Homo sapiens: one gene and its partner. The protein of the gene in region 2 interacts with the protein of the main gene of each other region in a pairwise test. Each region holds a gene or a part of one and is shown on either strand. Other genes may lie near its edges. The genes, in order: GRSF1 and BTBD6.

Evidence for each region.
Region 1: the proteins of BTBD6 (region 2) and GRSF1 interact in a two-hybrid assay, tested with the Homo sapiens proteins (one study listed by BioGRID).

What each region holds. Positions count from the first base shown.
Region 1 is NC_000004.12:70,829,020-70,837,914, forward strand, and holds part of GRSF1 (G-rich sequence factor 1), read right to left. Parts: intron 7,296-8,895; coding exon 7,139-7,295; intron 4,255-7,138; coding exon 4,099-4,254; intron 3,432-4,098; coding exon 3,288-3,431; intron 2,656-3,287; coding exon 2,520-2,655; intron 1-2,519. UniProt on the Homo sapiens protein: Regulator of post-transcriptional mitochondrial gene expression, required for assembly of the mitochondrial ribosome and for recruitment of mRNA and lncRNA. Binds RNAs containing the 14 base G-rich element.
Region 2 is NC_000014.9:105,243,665-105,252,714, reverse strand, and holds BTBD6 (BTB/POZ domain-containing protein 6 isoform 2 precursor), read right to left. Parts: upstream 4,183-9,050; 5' UTR 4,004-4,182; coding exon 3,630-4,003; intron 3,567-3,629; exon of another isoform or gene 3,559-3,566; coding exon 3,468-3,558; exon of another isoform or gene 3,356-3,467; coding exon 3,237-3,355; intron 3,076-3,236; coding exon 2,043-3,075; 3' UTR 1,622-2,042; downstream 1-1,621. Other genes in the region: BRF1 (transcription factor IIIB 90 kDa subunit), read left to right, coding at 136-208. UniProt on the Homo sapiens protein: Adapter protein for the cul3 E3 ubiquitin-protein ligase complex. Involved in late neuronal development and muscle formation.

The DNA of each region.
Region 1 (8,895 bases), on a different chromosome or scaffold from region 2:
TGAGCCACCATGCCCAGCCCACACACTGCTAATTTTTTTATTTTTTATTTTTGTAGACATGGGTTCTTGCCATGTTGCCCAAGTTGCTCTTGAACTCCTGGGCTCAAGTGATCCTCCCACTTCGGCCTCCCAAAGTGCTGGGATTATAGGCATGGGCCACCGCGCCCAGCACAGTTTCCTTTTTCTTAACATGGCCTTCTAAACTAAGAGTTATAAAACTAGCTTGTGTTTACAAATCTATAAAGATTAGATGAGCACTACTTCTTTAAAAAAAAAACCTTTGAGCCTGGACAACAAAGTGAGACACCATCTCTACAAAAGTTTTTTTTTGTTTTTTTTTTTAATTAGCCAGGAGACCAGGTACAGTGGCTCACACCTATAATCCCAGTACTTTGGGAGGCTGAGGCAGGTGGATCACTTGAGCTCAGGAGTGTGAGACCAGCTTGGGCAACATGCAAAACCCCGTCTCTACAAAAATACAAAAATTAGCTGGGTGTGGTGGCATGTATCTGTAGTCCCAGCTACTTGGGAGGCTGAAGTGGGAGGATTGCTTGAGCCCAGGAGGCCACAACTGCAGTGAGCTGTATCACACAACTGCACTCCAGCGAGGGTAACAGAATAAGACTCTGTCTAAAATTAGCCAGGCATGGTGATGCATGCCTGTGGTACCAGCTACAAGGAAAGCTGAGATGGCAGGACTGCTTGAGCCCAGAAGGTCAAGGCTGAAATGAGCAGTGTTTGTGGCACTGCACTTCAGCCTGGGTGACAGAGCAAGATCCTGTCTCAAAAAACCAAAAAACCTTTGAACCACTTCTATCAGTAGATCCTGAAACACTGGCTTTGGAATGGCTGTTTTGTTTACTTCAAAGGAGCTGATTTAAAAGGCCAGAAAACAGTAAAAAAAAAAATTAACGAAACAGTGATTTAACATTTGACATTTTAAACTGTACCTCCAAAGTTAAAGTTAAAACACAAATGAACCCACTTATCATCATGTGCATCCTGAGGTGATGTCAACATGAGATACTGTACAAGACAACTGATCTAATTTCTTCAAAAGTCAATTGCTTTTAAAAAGGGGGGAAGAATAAGTAAGGGGGATTTGCTCTAGTTCAAGAGAATCAGTGGTCAGGTGCAGTGGCTCACACCTGTAATCCTAGCGTTTTGGGAAGCCAAAGCGGGCGATCACTTGAGCCCATGAGTTTGAGGCCAGCCAGGGCAACACAGCAAGACCCCACCTACAAACACACACGCACGCACGCACACACACATACACACAGCCAGGTGTGGCGGCACATGCCTATTGTTCTAGCTAGTTGGGAGGATGAGGCGAGACGATTGCTTGAGCCCAGGAATTCAAGGCTGTAGTGAGCTATCATCATGCCACTGCACTCCAGCCTGGGTGACAGAATAAGACCCTGTGTCTTAAAAAAAAAAAAAAAACACACACACACACAGAGAATTATGGACATAACAATCAAATGCAGTGTGTAGACCTTATCTGGATTCTGTATTTTTGTCCGGTGTGCTGGCTCACACCTGTAATCCCAGCACTTTTGGAGGCCGAGGTGGGTGAATGACTTGAGTCCGGGAGTTCTAGACCAGCCTGGCCAACATGGTAAAACCTTGTCTCTACTAAAAATACAAAACTTAGCTGGGCATGGTGGCGCATGCCTCTAGTTCCAGCTACTCAGGAGGCTGAGGCAGGAGGATCACATGAAACTGGGAGGCAGAGAGAGGATGCAGTGAGCCAAGATCACACCACCGCACTCCAGCCTAGGCGGCAGAGTGAAACTCCGTTGCCAAAAAAAAAAAGGCTATTTTTGGTATAATTGGGAAAATGCTATTATGAACTGTTATTAGATAATATACTATTGCTAACAGTGTTAGATATAACATTGAAATTATGTAAAAAAATTTTTTTAAAAGATGCATACTAAAAAAAACCCAGATGAAGCAAATATAACAGATGTTACATTTTATATATAAATGTGTTAATCTAGCTGCTCTAGGTACTCTGTCTATGGGTTAGTCCCTGCCCCACAAGGAGCAGTCAAGCCGGATGCGGTGGCTCACGCCTGTAATCCCAGCACTTTGGGAGGCCGAGGCGGGCGGATCACAAGGTCGAGAGATCGAGACCACCCTGGCCAACATGGTGAAACCCCGTCTCTACTAAAAATACAAAAAAAGCCGGGCATGGTGGCAGGCGCCTGTAATCCCAGCTACTTGGGAGGCTGAGGCAGGAGAATCGCTTAAACCAGGGAGGCAGAGGTTGCAGTGAGCCAAGATCGTGCCATTGCACTCTAGCCTAGGCAAAAAGAGTGAAACTCTGTCTCAAAAAAAAAAAAAAGGAGCAGTCGAAAAAAAATTGTTAATCTAAATTATGGGCATTTGATGGCTCACTACACTACTCTCTCTACTTTTCTATGTTTGGATAACTTTTCAGTCATATTACAGCACATTCATCAAAATGACTTAATGTGTAACACTTCTGCATCATTAGTATCTGCTTTACTCACCGATTACCAATTTCTTCCCTGTGTTTCAACAGGGCTTGGTTGGCCATTTCTGGTTCTTCAAATTGCACATAGGCTTCCCCTGTTTTTCGCCTCCCTCTATAGTCCATCACAAAAGTAATGTCAACTATATTCAGTCCTAGGACACCAAGAGATTTTAATGCTACTAGCAGGCTTTTTTATCCTTAGAATTAACACCATCATTCACATACTAATAAAATTTTTATTCTGTTTTGCCAGTCCCAAAACTGAATACATGCTTGACAGGAAGAAAATTATTATGCAGTCAAAAGTCAGTCAACACCTACATACTTGTATTTCCAGAATAGGTAAGGTCCAAGAAGCCCACCCAAAACATACAATTCTCCCCACCAGTTTTTTTTTTTTTTTTTGCTGTTAATTATATACTAGGAAACAATAGAAATCACAGACTTCACTGCTAATGGTTCTAGGAATTAGAAAATACTTTTAAATTATATAAATTGTTATTGTCTTACACAAATACAGCAACTATTATGAGAAGTTATTTCCTTCAATAGTAAAACCCTCATGAAATTATTCTGAAATCTGACTTCCCTCCTAAAATCTGCCTGATAGAACAAAAACACATATAAAATCTATAAATATTAGAAATTTAAGTGAAGAGCTCTCCCCTAAAGAACCTAATATAACTGCATGCCTTTGCCCAGAAACAGGCTCATCTAAGATATAGAAGGAGATACCAAGGGAAAAAAGATATGAGCTCCCAAGCATAATACAACTGCAAAGTACCTGCAAAGAAGTCTACAATGTCTTTCTCATTGCAACTATAAGGAAGTCCTCTCAAACGAACCACACCATCATTTACCACAGGCGAAGATTTGACCTGCAAGCTCTTCATTAAGGCATCCACATCTTCATTGTTTATCTCATATACTACGAAGAAAAAACCCAACAGGGATGAAAAATTTACATAACAAAGGAACAAACCCATTAAAAAAAATCATTACAACTTGCTGGGTTATCTGAGAATTCAATAACTATTTTAATCTTTATGCGCTTCTCTAGAGAAAATAACAAATGACATTTATTGCATATTTACCATGCGGGCATAACTTCTTTATTTCTCACAGCTTGTAAGATACTTCATTGGCCAGGCACACTGGCTCACGCCTATAATCCCAGAACTTTGGGAGGCCAAGGCGGGTGGATTACCTGAGGTCAGGAGTTTGAGACCAGCCTGACCAATATGGTAAAACCCCATCTCTAATAAAAATACAAAAATTAGCTGGGTATCATGGCATGTGCCTGTAGTCCCAGCTACTTGGGAGGCTGAGACAGGAGAATTGCTTGAACCCAGGAGGCAGAGGTTGCAGTGAGCTGAAATCGCACCACTGCACTCCAGCCTGGGTGACAGAGTGAGATTCCATCCCCCCCACAAAAAAAAGAAACTTTATCTCTTTATGTTTTATTTTCACATCCTATAAAAGAATGCATTCATACAATCTAAATACTTCATTATTAAGGATCAAATAAAAACTACCTTGAAAAGTATAAAACCTAATGCAATGATCCCAAAAAGCCATAATCTGACTTCACATACCTTCCACATACCGCTGGCCCATGTACATGCGGTGCTTCTCTAAGGCTTTCTGCACATCCTGCTCTGACTCCATTTCAATTAAGGCATCACCCCTTCGTTTCCCATCTCTGTTTAGGAGAAAATGTATTCCATTCTCACCGTTGCGGATTCTGCAGTCTAAAAGTGTATGAGCAAAATCAATTGAAAACAGAAATCAAACTTTTAGCTCAATTATGTAAGTCACAAGAATGCAGTTTTCCAACAACAAAGCAGGAAACAAGTGTCATATTCCTTACACAAATCCCCATCACTGAAGTCATCCAAACACCAATAAGGATTTAGTCTCTAAAACCTTCCAAGTAGAAAAGATAAGCAAACCTTAGCACAGAAGCTTATGATCTCCTTCCTGATCATTAAATAGCAAATCAGGATAGGCCCAACACAAAATTCATTATTTCTATTGCAATGTTTCTACAATCACTTAAGGAAATACAATATAGTTAAATTTATACATAAGTGTCTTCCTTTAAAATCATCTCCATAGGTCTCTAAAATATTTCCTGTATGAGTAATTTTATTACCATAGTTTAACTTTTTGTTTTTGTAGAGAGGCGGTCTCATTTTGTTGCACAGGCTGGTCTTGAACTCTTGGGCTTAAGTAATCCTCCCACCTTAGTCTCCCAAAGTGCTGGGATTACAGGCATCAGCCACCACACCCAGCCTTTTTCCCCTTTTCATACTGCATACTTTTTATAATGGGAGTAGTCCAAGATGTAAGTGGCCAAGTGGCTTTAAAAAAAAGTTTGACCAGGCTCACTCTGGGCATACTGCCTAGGATTTACTCCTGCTCCACAAGGAGCAGCTAAAAAAATTAATGAAATAGCCAGGCATGGTGGTTCATGCCTGTAATCCCAGCCCTTTGGGAGGCCAAGGTGGTGGATCACCTGAGGTCAGGAGTTTGAGACCAACCTGGCCAACACGGCAAAACCCTGTCTCTACTAAAAATACAAAAATTAGCCGGGCATGGTGATAGGTGCCTGCTGTCCCACCAACTCAGGAGGCTGAGGCAGGAGAATCCCTTGAACCCGGGAGGTGGAGGTTGCAATGAGCCGAGATTGCGCTACTGCACTCCAGCCTGGGTGACAGAGCAAGACTCCATCTCAAAAAAATTAATAAAAATAAATCATAGTCAGATACAGAAACTAAAAAAAAAAATCCCACAGATATGTAAACCCTCCAAACATGTTATTAAGGGAACTTTATTCCTTGATACTAAGTGACCTTCTATTGTAAATGTCTGTATTACATAAAGAGTCACCCTTAATTCCATATTTCCACTGACAGGCTTGACTTTTTGATATGTATATATTAATACCACAGAGAAAAATAATTTCAAACCATGTAATTTTGTTTTTCAACTTTTATTTAGTACATGTATAGGACTGCTACATAGGTAAACCATGTGTTATGGGAGTTCGGTATACAGATAATTTAGTTACCCAGGTAGCAAGCACAGTACCCAATAGGTTTTATTTTTCTTTTTGAGACAGAGTCTCTCTCTGTCACCACGGCTGGAGTACAGTGGTGTGAACTCAGCTCACTGCAACCTCCGCCTCCCAGATTCAAGCGATTCTCCTGCCTCAGCCTCCCAGGTAGCTGGGACTACGGGAGCGTGCCACCACGCCCGGCTAATTTTTTTTGTATTTTTAGGAGAGATGGGGTTTCAACATGTTAGCCAGGATGGTCTCGATCTCCTGACCTCGTGATCCGCCCGCCTCGGCCTCCCAAAGTGCTGGGATTACAGGCGTGAGCCACCGCACTTGGACCCGATAGGTATTTTTTAATCTTCTCCCCAACCCTCAAGTTGGCCCTGGTGTCTTCTTGTTCCCCTCTTTGTGTCCATGTGTTCTCATTGTTTAGCTCCCACTTGTAAGTGAAAACATACAGTATTAAGTTTAATGTTCCATGTTAGTTTGCTTAGGATAATGGTCTCCAGCACCACCCACATTGCTGCAAAGCACATAATCTCACTCTTTGTTATGGCTACGTAGTATTCCATCATACCAGCCGGGCACGGTGGCTCACGCCTGTAATCCCAGCACTGTGGGAAGCCGAGGCAGGCAGATCACAAGGTCAGGAGATTGAGATCATCCTGGCTAACACGGTGAAACCCCAGCTCTACTAAAAATACAAAAAATTAACTGGGTGTGGTGGCAGTCGCTACTAGGGAGGCTGAGGCAGGAGAATGGTGTGAACCCGGGAGGCGGAGCTTGCAGTGAGCTGAGATCATGCCACTGCACTCCAGCCTGGCGACAGAGCGAGACTCCGTCTCAAAAAAAAAAAAACCTACATAGTATGATGGATTTTTTTTTTTTTTTGAGACAGAGTCTCACTCTGTCGCCCAGGCTGGAATGCAGTGGCACCATCTCGGCTCACTGCAAGCTCCACCTCCCGGATTCACACCATTCTCCTGCCTCAGCCTCCCAAGTAGCTGGGACTACAAGCCTGGGTAATTTTTGTATTTTTAGTAGAGACGGGGTTTCACTATGTTAGCCAGGATGGTCTCGATCTCCTGAGCTTGTGATCCGCCCGCCTCGGCCTCCCAAAGTGCTGGGATTACAGGCGTGAGCCACTGCGCCTGGCCCATACTATGCAGTCTTAACGTTAAAATACTTTTGTTGCATTCAAAGTCTTTATACATATGTAAATTGAGACAGTCTCACAGTGTTGCCCAGTGTGGTATGGAACTACTGGCCTCAAGCCATCCTTCCACCTTGGCCTCCCAAACTGCTGATTACAGGCCTGAGCCACTGCCCCTGGCCCAAAGTCTTTCAATTCGTTACATACCGCAAACAGCACACATGGTATCATTTGGTATATGCAACCAACCAGAATGAGACAGTTCCCAACCATCAAAAAGGAAGGTGACAGCGTAGTCTGACATGGATTTGTAGCACTACCTTTTACTCAGACAAAATTACATACTTAAAACATACATACCTGCTTGTGAGAAACAATATAAGGAAAAAAAATAAATAAATAAAACATACATAAAATATACCTGAAAAAAAGTTAAGCACATCTTCCATAGTGCATGACCAGGGCAGTCCTTGAGCTCGAATGAGAAAGACATCATCCACTTCCTCTTCTAACTTGGACGGGGCCAATTCATACTCAGGGGGTGGTGGAAGGTCTTCCAGGTAAGTAGTTTTGGACTCCTTCCAAAGGAAATGAAGAATTGTAAAAAGAGTTGCATTTACAGGTAAAAAATGTAAAAAAATTCTTAGAAAATGTTTATTCTACAAACTAACATTCTAGATGTTATTTCAGAAGCAAAAAGTAAACTTCACCAATGTAACCCATCCTGTTTTGGCTTAAATTGTACATCCAAAAGCCATAAGCAGGTATATCCTAAAGGTTTGGCAGGACACAAATTTCATTCAGGGTTTGTTTTAAAATTCATCAACCCCAAATTATAGCTAACAATAGTGTAGTTAAGGCAACACAAGAAAGGTCCTGACAATTTGACAAATATTTGATTGCCCCTACACACAGTGTTTGCCGCCCTCATCTGAAATAGCTATCTAGAATACGATAAGCATACAAGATGAGATACTGAGTGCTATAATTAAGATACAAAATACTACAGGAATTCAAATCAGAGCACTAACAGATGAATCAGGATGTGACATGAGATGGGCCTTGAAGGAAGGATAGAATTTTTATGAGGATATAAAAGATAGGGTATTCCAGTTTGAAGGCGAGAGAAAGAAGCAGTACGACCAAATGCCCATTTGAATAACAGCAATTAATTCCAACTGTTTAAATTAGGAGCCAAAGAAGGTGACCTGGCAAAAGAGGTTGGTACCATAGAGCAGAGGGCCTTGAGTGTGGAGCTCAATGTGTGTCCTTCACTTGGTAGGCAAAGATAAGTTAATACAAGACACTGAGGACTGGGTAAATCAACAAGACAGCAGGACGCCTTGGGAATATTCCTCTGTCAGCTGGTATGCCAGACCAAGTGATTAAGGGAAAGATCTTAAAGACAACGGCAGCAGTGTGAGGCTACAGACTTGTAAAGTCTCTTTTATCGGATTAAGTAAAACTGGAATTTAGTAAGAATCCACGAAGCACTACAACCATAACCTAAGAAGACAACTCAGGCTTTAAGACTTGCACTCTACTGGGCCAGGTGCGGTGGCTCACGCCTGTAATCCCAGCACCTTGGGAGGCCGAGGTGGGCGAATCACGAGGTCAGGAGTTCAAGACCAGCCTGGCCAACATGGCAAAACCCCATCTCTACTAAAAATACAAAAAATGAGCCGGGTGTGGTGGCGTGTGCCCGTAATCCCAGCTACTCGGGAGGCTGAGGCAGGATAATCGCCTGAACCCGGGAGGTAGAGGTTTCAGTGAGCTGAGATCTCGGCATTTCACTCCAGCATGGGCAACAGAGCAAGACTCCGTCTCAAAAAAAAAAAAAAAAAAAGACTTGCACTCTACCGGACTAAGGACAGAGATATCTTTCTACTATCTGTCATTTTCTTTTCTTTTCTTTTTTCTTGAGACGGAGTTTCGCTCTTGTCGCCCAGACTAGAGTATAATGGCACAATCTCGGCTCACTGCAACCTCCCCGGGTTCAAAGGATTCTCCTGCCTCAGCCTCCCGGGTAGCTGGGATTACAGGCGCCCGCCACCCCGCCCGGCTAATTTTTTTGCATTTTTTTAGTAGACACGGAGTTTCACCATGTTGGTTAGCCTGCTATCGAACTCCTGACCTCAGGTGATCCACCCGCCGCAGCCTCCCAAAGTGCCGCGCCCA
Region 2 (9,050 bases):
TTGCGGGTGTGGGGTGGCTGCTCCACGGGCCATCGGAGTCTTTAAAGACTGCACAAGAGATGCATTTTAAGAGAAAAAAAGCAAACATTTCCTTAAATACCAATGCTGTTTCTGGTTGTGATCTCTCCATCTCAGGTGAATGTGTACGTGCTTGGAAAGACGTTTCTTCTCTTGGCAAGAGAGCTCTGCATCAATGCGCCGGCCATAGGTAGGCATCTGGGTGAGATGCTGGGGTGTCCGGCAGGCTGCTGTAGGGACCAGCGTGCCAAATGTCCTTTGAACAGTGGAGGGAAATCCTGTCCAAGCATGGGACCCCTCAAGGTAAGAAATGTTTCTTAAAGCTGCTAGGAGCTCAGTAATGTGGGGCCTTATTTTCTAAGACACAGTCTCGCTGTTGTCCAGGCTGGAGTGCAGTGGCACAATCGTAGCTCACTGCAGCCTCAAACTCCTGGCCTCAAGTGATCCTCGTGCCTTCGCCTCCCAAAGCACTGGGATTACAGGCATGAGACCGCACCTGGCCTGGGGCTTGCTTTCTGCTGCAAAACCAGAAGGCCTGTTGTCAGTGCCTGTCAGGTGGCAGGAAGGTGTAGACAGGGAAACAAGTGCTGCGTGCTGGGAGCATCTTGTGTGGACAAGGTTTAAGGGACACACCTGGCTCCAGGTGCCTCTGGACAGATGGGGACAGTGGGGCAGCTCCTGGTTGTGCTTTCCAGCCACAGCCCTCTTTTGTGGTTTTTCTGCCACTTTTGTTCTGTGTTGTGTGCGAGTTTGTGGAACTCCTGTATGCCTTTCTTGATGTGTGTTAGGTGTAGGGTAAGTCCTGTCTCTCCCTCGAGGCAGCAGCAGTGTTCATGCATGCAGAATCTAACCTAGCGGAAAAGTCTAGAAGGAAAGGATCAAAACAGCACTCACTGCCCGATGGTTCTGACCTACCCTTTCTTTACCAAGCAGATGACTGGTTTCCATGGCCCGCTTAGAGGCCCCTTTCTTACTTTGCCTGTTTGCATCTAGGAGCGTATGTCCTTTGGGTAGAGAAGCACCAGGTGGGGCTGGGTCACCAACAGGACTGAGCAACACGGGCTGCAGCAGCAGAGGGGCACCGGCTGAGGCTATACACTCGGCCCATGCCCTCTCCCAGGTGCCAAGAGGGGCCATCCCTCTTTTCGGGGGTCATACAGGTTTTCCAGAAAACAACTGCCTACAGGGTATGCAGAGTGGGAGGAGAGAGACAAGGGGTGGGAGAGCCTGTTTCACCCTATAGTCCACTCCTGCAACAGGCTGTCCCGCAGCAGTGTCACAGCTAGTGACAGTCCCCAGGGTCCAGAACGCTGGGCCCAGCAGAATGCTCCCCCGACAGTCTGTTCATAGGGTAGGACTCTGAGGTGCTAGTGATGCATTAGGACATAGAGACAACCAGGCACCTGGTGTTTCCTAGGGTGGCCCAGAAGCCAGCCAGCAACCCAGGGGACAGATGGGCTTCACTGGGGCGCAGTTTGCTCCTAACCACATAGCATGTTCAGCATGACAGGTTTTCTCCTCGGGATGGGAGGGAGCTGTTCTGTTGCATGAGAAAGAGAATACCCCACTGTACAACTGCTGTAGTCATTTACTGACACGTGGGTGTTATTTTAGGCAACCTTTATTACAGAAGTCCACTATTTTAAGTGACTTTTTGCCAATTTTAGATTTGAAGGGAAGGTCTCAAGTTAAGCTTGGAACCACTTAGAATCCAAGAGGGTAGCAGGAAGATCCAACCCCTCAAAGCAGGTGGCATGGGTGCCACTGGGAGGGGATCTGGGGCCTGTCTTGAGCCGTAAATCTTCCTCCACCTGAGACGTGCACCCCACTGTACCAGAGATGCCTAAGACTCCAATCCCTGGGTTCTGGCTGTGTGGAAAATGTCTCTACACAGTCAAGCTTCAGCTGACTACATGTCAAAGAGAGACAAAGTTAAGAGCAGCCTTTCATGGTGTCAAGAAGCAGTTAGCATCTTGACTTCCCCTCCACTCACTCGCTGACCTGCTGCAGCCTCCCCGGGCACCTCAGGCATAGAAAATGAGCTCAGGGATCTGCCCACCCTGGACCCCAGTCCCGTTGGTGCTGTCCGAGGAGCACTGGAACTGGAAGGCCACCTTTCCACACTGCACTTCCGTCATCCCCTCCTGCCCAAAGTAGCTGAGTTCGCTGCCGTCCAGGACGGCACTGGCCGTGTAGAAGGTGTCTTGTTCAACCTGGACCGGGTGTTCAAACCAGACCGGGAAGGTGTTACTGGATCCGTCTGACATGAACTTGGTCAAGTTCTGAGCCAGAACCACCCCGAGCCGCTTGAGCTCAATCTTCACGCTGTACTCAGCCTTCCCAGAGCTGGAGCCATACAGGCCCAGCCCTGCAATAAATACCCTTCTGTCCACTGCAAACTGGATGCTGTCGCAGCGCCCGCGGTACCGCCACTGGTTGCTGCGGTAGGCAGAAGACTGGAATCGGTGGCACCTCTGCGGGGCGAGGCCCTTCCTCTTGGTCAGGGGAAAGTCCAGGCGGGGCTTGTTGGTGGCCGTGTACCACAGGAAGATGCTGTGGGTCTCCTCCAGAGTCAGGATGTCTGACTGGGCAGCGCCGTTGGCAAACTCCTCTAGGGTCATGGTTGGAATTCGGACCAGATAGAGGGCTCGCCCCAGAACATGCCTCTTGTTTCGTGGGGTGATTGGCAGCCCCTGCCTCTTGCACTCCGCCTCGGCCCAGTTCAGGACGGCCTCGAAGACCACCGCCTCTTTGGTGTTGAGGGCCTCCCGAGTGACAATGATCTCCAGCGTCTGCCGGTCTATCTCACAGAAGCCTTCGGACCGTAGGGCCATCTCGGCCTGTGCGTCAATGACCTCCCAGCAGCGCTGCGTCAGCTCGGGCTCCTCAAACAGCCGGCTCTGGGACAGCAGGACGCAGGCGTTCTTGGCTTCCAAACTTGTCTCCAGAAAGTTGACACAGGCTTTTGCCAATGCTGGGACGATGTACTTCTTAGCAGCGTACAGAGTGGCCAGCACCGTGTCGGCTTCCAGATCGATCTCATCACTGTACATGTACCTAGGCGAGGCAGGGCCCGCGTCAGGGGCTGGCTCCCAAGCACCCATCGCGGGGCTGGGCCTGGGAGAGGAGTCCATCAGCTCCTGTGTGCTTCCCTTCAGAAGCCTCCGGAGGCCGCCTAAAACGGACCCACCCGTCCCTCCCCAGTAGAGTGGACTTACTTTAAGAGGATCAGAAAGGCTGCGGGCTCCACGTCTGGAATGTGAATTTCAGATTTGACTTCCGCCAGGTCTCCGTAGAACATGGCATAGAAGACGGAGCTGCCGACAGCCAAGACGTACTGGGAGGAGAAAGCGCCGCCGTGAGCCTGGCTCTCCCGCAGGCTGCGTGTCAGCCACACGGCGGACGGGGCGGACGGGGCACGCGTTCCGAGAGGGGCCGCCGCTACCCACCTTGTGGGCGGGCACCGTCCTGGTCGCCCCCGGGGGCCCCACGACGAAGTGCACGTCGGCCATGAGCTCGTTGTTGAACATGAGCGCGTTCCTGCAAAGGTAGAGGCACGGGCTGGGGGCGTGGGCGCGCGCGGGCGCGGGGGCCGCGGGGCACGGGCTCACCTCTCGCGCAGCGTGGGGCGGCAGCACCGCCAGCCGGGGCTCTCCTGGTGGTTGTTGCCGAGTGTGGGCGGCGCGGGCGCGGGCGGCGGCGGCGCTGGCGCGGGGGCGCTGGGCGGGCTGCGCGGCCCGGCCTTCCTGCCCACGGCGGCGCCGGCGTTGCTGTTGGCTAGGTCCGCGGCCGCGGCGCTGGCGGGAGCGTAGAGTTCCGCCGCCATCTTCGCGGGCGGGGCGGCGGGGGCAGCCTCGGCGCCTGTGGACGCCGCGCCCCGCGCCCTCGCGCCGCGCCGGGGCCTCGGGAGCGGCTCTGCAAGCAAAAGCAAGGAGGTCAGGCACTGAGCGACGCGGCCGTGCAGGCAGGCTAGGGGCAGCAGCATGGGCGGCGGCGGCGCTGTGACCCGCGGGGCTGCCACCCGCTCCCCTGCCACCCCCGCCCCTGCGACCCTGCCCGAGCCCAGCCTAGCGCAGCCCGGCCAGGCCCGGCCGCGGGGGGCGCCGTCCCGCCCGCCCGCCCGCCCGAGCCCGTACCCGCCGCGGCGCCGGTGCGTCACGCTGCGTCAGGGCCGCGCCCCGCGCGACGTCGCTGCCTCGCGGCCCCGCCCCCAGGCCCGACATCCTCGAAGCTGCTCGAGCTTCTGCCCAGCAACCGGCGCGAGCCGCGCGCTGTGCAGAGGTAGCCGTGGAAGGCGGCTCCCGGCGCTGGCAGGCGGCCGCCCCCAGACCCGCAGTGCCATGCGCAGGTGCTTGCGCCCGTTCTTCAGTTAGCGATCTTTTGGTTAGGAACGCAGGTGGACCTGCTTGTTTGGCCATTTGCATTCCGGAGTCTGCCTCTGGCCGCGGCCTGTGGGATGGTCGTTGGGCTTCCTCGTTCGTTCAGATGCTTCGCGATTTAGCTTGCTACGGACGCCAGCAGCCAGCGCTTGCAGAGAGCGCGGTCCACTCTGCTCTGAGGGCTTTACAGGGGCAGGCGCTGCTATTTCCCGGCATTTTCCTCGAGGAAATAGGCACAGAGAGGTTAGTCGCGCGCTGAAGGTCACACAGCCGGCGGGTGGGCAAGTCAGGATCTGGCCCTGGGCCTGCAGCCCTGGAGCTTGGGCCCCAGGGCGCGCCCTGCCTCTGTGGCTCTGCCTGTGGATCGCAGTCGCAGGCTCGCTCCTTGTGGGGCCTCTAGCCTCCCGGCCTGGGGCTAATCCTGGGAGGTGCGTGGCATGGGGCACTGGCTTTGCTGATGAGGAGACCAGACTTCAGAGGCCGTGTCACCTGGCCTGGGCCGCACAGCTGGTGCATGCCAAGCTCGCGTGCAGACGAAGCTCCAGAGGCCTGGCTGTCAGGAGGGTTCCTCCCCGAGGACACACACGCAACCTCCTGGACCGCCAGGCTTTAGACTTTTAAAACTTCCATATGCAGGAAACCCCACAGGACGCAGCCAGCATCTCGGGTCATGGGTGCACCTGTCACCGCAGTCCTGGGCTAAACAGTGAACAGGAGCTCTGTGTCTCTGTGGTCGTTACAGTTGTAGTGAATGTTCCCTGGGAGAGTCCTCTTCAGAAGATATTTGCGGTATTTTCAACAAAGGACTCTCCAGGATGGAGGAGCAACTACAAGTCAGGAAGGAAAAGGCTGACAACCCAGTTTTTTAAAAAACGGGCAAAGGACGTGAACAGACACCATGCAATGGCCCAGAGTGCACAAATCATCATTTCTCCCAGGAATGGGGTGCCCGAGCCCCCAGGCGGCTGAACTTGAGACTTGTCACGTAGTGTTGGTGGAATGCAGAGCAGCTGGAGATCACCTGCTGCAGGTGGGTGCGTAACTCCGCACGGCCAAGCCGTTTGGAAAGCTGTAGCATATGCATGAGAGTCCGGAAAGTTCCGAGAGAAAGTGTGTGGATGCACCCGCCAAGGACACACCCACCGAGGCCACAGCTGCGATTTCATAGTGTGGGACCCCACTGGCAAAGACACGCTGGCTGCTGTGGCCGTGGTTTCTGTCCCAGCCGTCTGTTTCCATAGAAAAAGGTAACGGGCATAAGCAGTTTCCAGGAGAAATACAAATGGCCAGAGTGGAGACAGCCTACATGTCCATCAGCAACAGAAAGGATCAGCAGGTTGTGGTGGGTCCATTTGGGGAATGCAGTGAGAAGGAATAACTTACAGCAGCACACAAGACCTGGGCGACAGCTGTCTCCGGGGGTGCCAGGATAGAATTGCTGAGCCGCCAGAGGTAGTCAGCGTCTTGATCTGCATGGTGGTGTGGAGCATGTGAATAATAATTTTCATCCTTAGAAAGAAACCACCCTTTGCACTTTGATTTTTAAATATGTTACAGTGTAGGTTGGGCGCGGTGGCTCACGCCTGTAATCCCAGCACTTTGGGAGGCCAAGGTGGGCGGATCACTTGAGGTCAGGAGTTTGAGACCAGCCTGGCCAACATGGTGAAACCCCATCTCTACTAAAAATACAAAAATTAACGGGCACCTGTAATCCCAGCTATTCGGGAGGCCAAGGAAGGAGAATGGCTCGAACCAGGGAGGCGGAGGTTGCAGTGAGCTGAGATCATGCTACTGCACTCCAGCCTGGATGACAGAGCGAGACTCCGTTGACCAGGCTGGTCTTAAACTCCTGGCCTCAAGTGATCTACCTGCCTAGGCCTCCCAAAGTGCTGGGATTACAGGTGTGAGCCACCGCGCCCAGCCTATTCTTTTTTGTTTGTGATAATGGTCATCCTAATGGACATGAGGTAGTGTCATGTGGTTTTGATTTGCATGTCCCTGATAAATAATGATGTTGACCATCTACTCATGTGCTTGTTGGCTATTTGCATGGCGTGTTTGGAGAAACGTCTGTTCAAGGGCTTTGCCTTTTTTTTTTGAGACAGAGTCTTACTCCGTTGCCCAGGCTGGAGTGCGGTGGTGAGGGTGCACTGCAACATCCGCCTTCCAGGTTCAAGCGATTCTTGTGCCTCAGCCTCCCAAAGAGCTGGGATTACAAAAGTGCAGTTTGCCCATTTTTAATCGATTTTGTTCCTGAGTTGGAGTTTTTTGTATATTCAGGCTGTTAACCCCTTATGAGATAGATGGTTTGCACATAGTCTCTTCCATTCTATAGGATATCATTTCTGTTAATAGATTCCTTTGCTGTGCAGAAACTTTTTAGTTTGAGGTCATCCCATTTGTCTATTTTTACTTTCGTTGCCCTTGCTGTTGGTGTCATGTTCAAGAAATCATTGCCAAGACCAATGTCGTGAAGTCTTTCCCTTTGTTTTCTTCTAAGGGTTTTACAGTTTCAAGTCTGTGTTTGGGTCTTGCATCGGTTTTGAGTTAGTTTTTGTGTATGATGTAAGGTAAGGGTCTATCTTTATTTGCAAGTGGATATCCAGTTTTCCCAGCGCTGCATATTGAAGAGACCATCCTTTCCCCATTGTGCAAGAAGTTCTTGTCACCCTTGTTGAAGGTCATCTGTCTGTCATTGTCATTTCTGGCCCTGTGCTGTCCTGTCCTGTCCTGTCCTGTCCTGTTCTGTTCTGTTGGTCTGTAGGTCTGTCTTTATGTCAGCACCATACTGGCTGTTGGACTTTTTAATTCTTTTCTTGACAGTGGTAATTTATTTGCTTCTTTTTCTTATTAGTCCCTTTGCCTACTTTAAATAATTAATTTTGTTAATTTTTAGTTTTCTGTTATTTTAGTTCATTAATTTCATTGCTTCCTTTATTTATTTATTTATTTTTTTTGAGATGGAGTCTTGCTCTGTCACTCAGGCTGGAGTGCAGTGGCACGATCTCAGCTCACTGCAACCTCCACCTCCCAGGTTCAAGTGATTCTCCTGTCTCAGTCTCCTGAGTAGCTGGGATTACAGGCACTTGCCACCATGCCCGGCTAATTTTTTGTATTTTTTAGTAGAGACGGGGTTTCGCTGTGTTGCCCGGGCTGGTTTCAAACTTCTGAGCTCAGGCAATCCACCTGCCTCGGCCTCCCAAAGTGCTAGGATTACAGGTGTGAGCCACCACGCCTGACCCATTGCTGCCTTAAATACACAAAGCGCTTGAGTTAATAAAGTTACCTGAAGGATTGAACTTTAATTTCTAACAGCGTTTGGAGGTGAGGGGACTACTTGTTTTTGCTCATTTTTAGTTTTTTTTTTTTTGCACTTGGGGTCAAATGGCATGTCCTATGTGCTGTTACCTGAAATATATTGAGGGTTTCTTTGTTCTATCATACCTGGTCATTTTCATAACTGTCCCACAGACACTGGAGAAGCATGATGACTCCATGGGGTACAGAATTTAGAACATCCTTGTCAGATTGAGTCTATGGTGATGTGTCTTAAGTCGTCCCTTAGTCTTTTTTTTCCTAATCAGTCTGTCAAATTTCAGAGAACCATGTTAAAATCCCCTATTATTGTGGTTTTGAAGGTTGTTTCCAGTGTTTTTCCTTCATTTAATTCTTCCTCTGTCGCTGTGCGCCTGCAGATTCCAGGCTGCTTGACATGGGTTCCTTTCCATGATGAAATGCCATGCCTGTCCCGTGCCGCTCTGCCACTCCGCGTTTGCCCACCGTGCCGCCGCTGCCCACCACTTCCTCCTCCACCCTAGTCACTGACAGATTTGTCTTGAAAAAAACACTTTTTGCTTGTCTTTTTTGTTTTTTGTTTTGAGACATGGTGTCAGTCACCTAGGCTAGAATGCAGTGGCAAGGTCATGGCTCAATGCAGCCCCGACCTCCTGGACTCAAGCAATCCTCCCACCTCAGCCTCCCAAGTAGCTGAGACAACAGGTATGCATCACTACACTAGGCTAAATTTTTCATTTTTTGTAAAGATGGGGGTCTCACTATATTGCCTAGGCTGGTTTCAAACTCCTGGGCTCAAGCGATCCTCCTGCCTTGGCCTCCCAAAGTTCTGGGACTCACAGGTGTGAGCCACTGCATCCGGCCCCAGATTTTTGTTTTAAGAGATGGGGTCTTGCTGTGTTTCCCAGGCTGACCTCGAACTCCCGGGCTCAAGCAATCCTCCCACCTCGGCCTTCCAAGTAGCTAGGAATGTAGGTATGAGCCACTCTGCCTGGCTTGTCTTGAATTTTTTGTTTGTTTGTTTGAGATGGAGTCTCGCTCTGTCGCCTAGGCTGGAGTACAGTGGCGCAGTCTTGGTTCATTGCAACCTCCACCTCCCGGGTTCAAGCAAATTCTCCTGTTTCAGCCTCCTTAGTACCTGGGATGACTACAGGCGCACACCACCACCCCCAGCTAATTTTTGTATCTTTAGTAGAGATGGGGTTTCACTATATTGGCCAGGCTGGTCTTGAATTCCTGACGTCAGGTGATCCACCCTCCTCGGCCTCCCAAAGTGCTGGGATTACAGGTGTGAGCCACTGTGCCCAGCCGTTGATATATTTACCAGTGTTTTTGAAATGAGTTTTCTATTTCAATAAT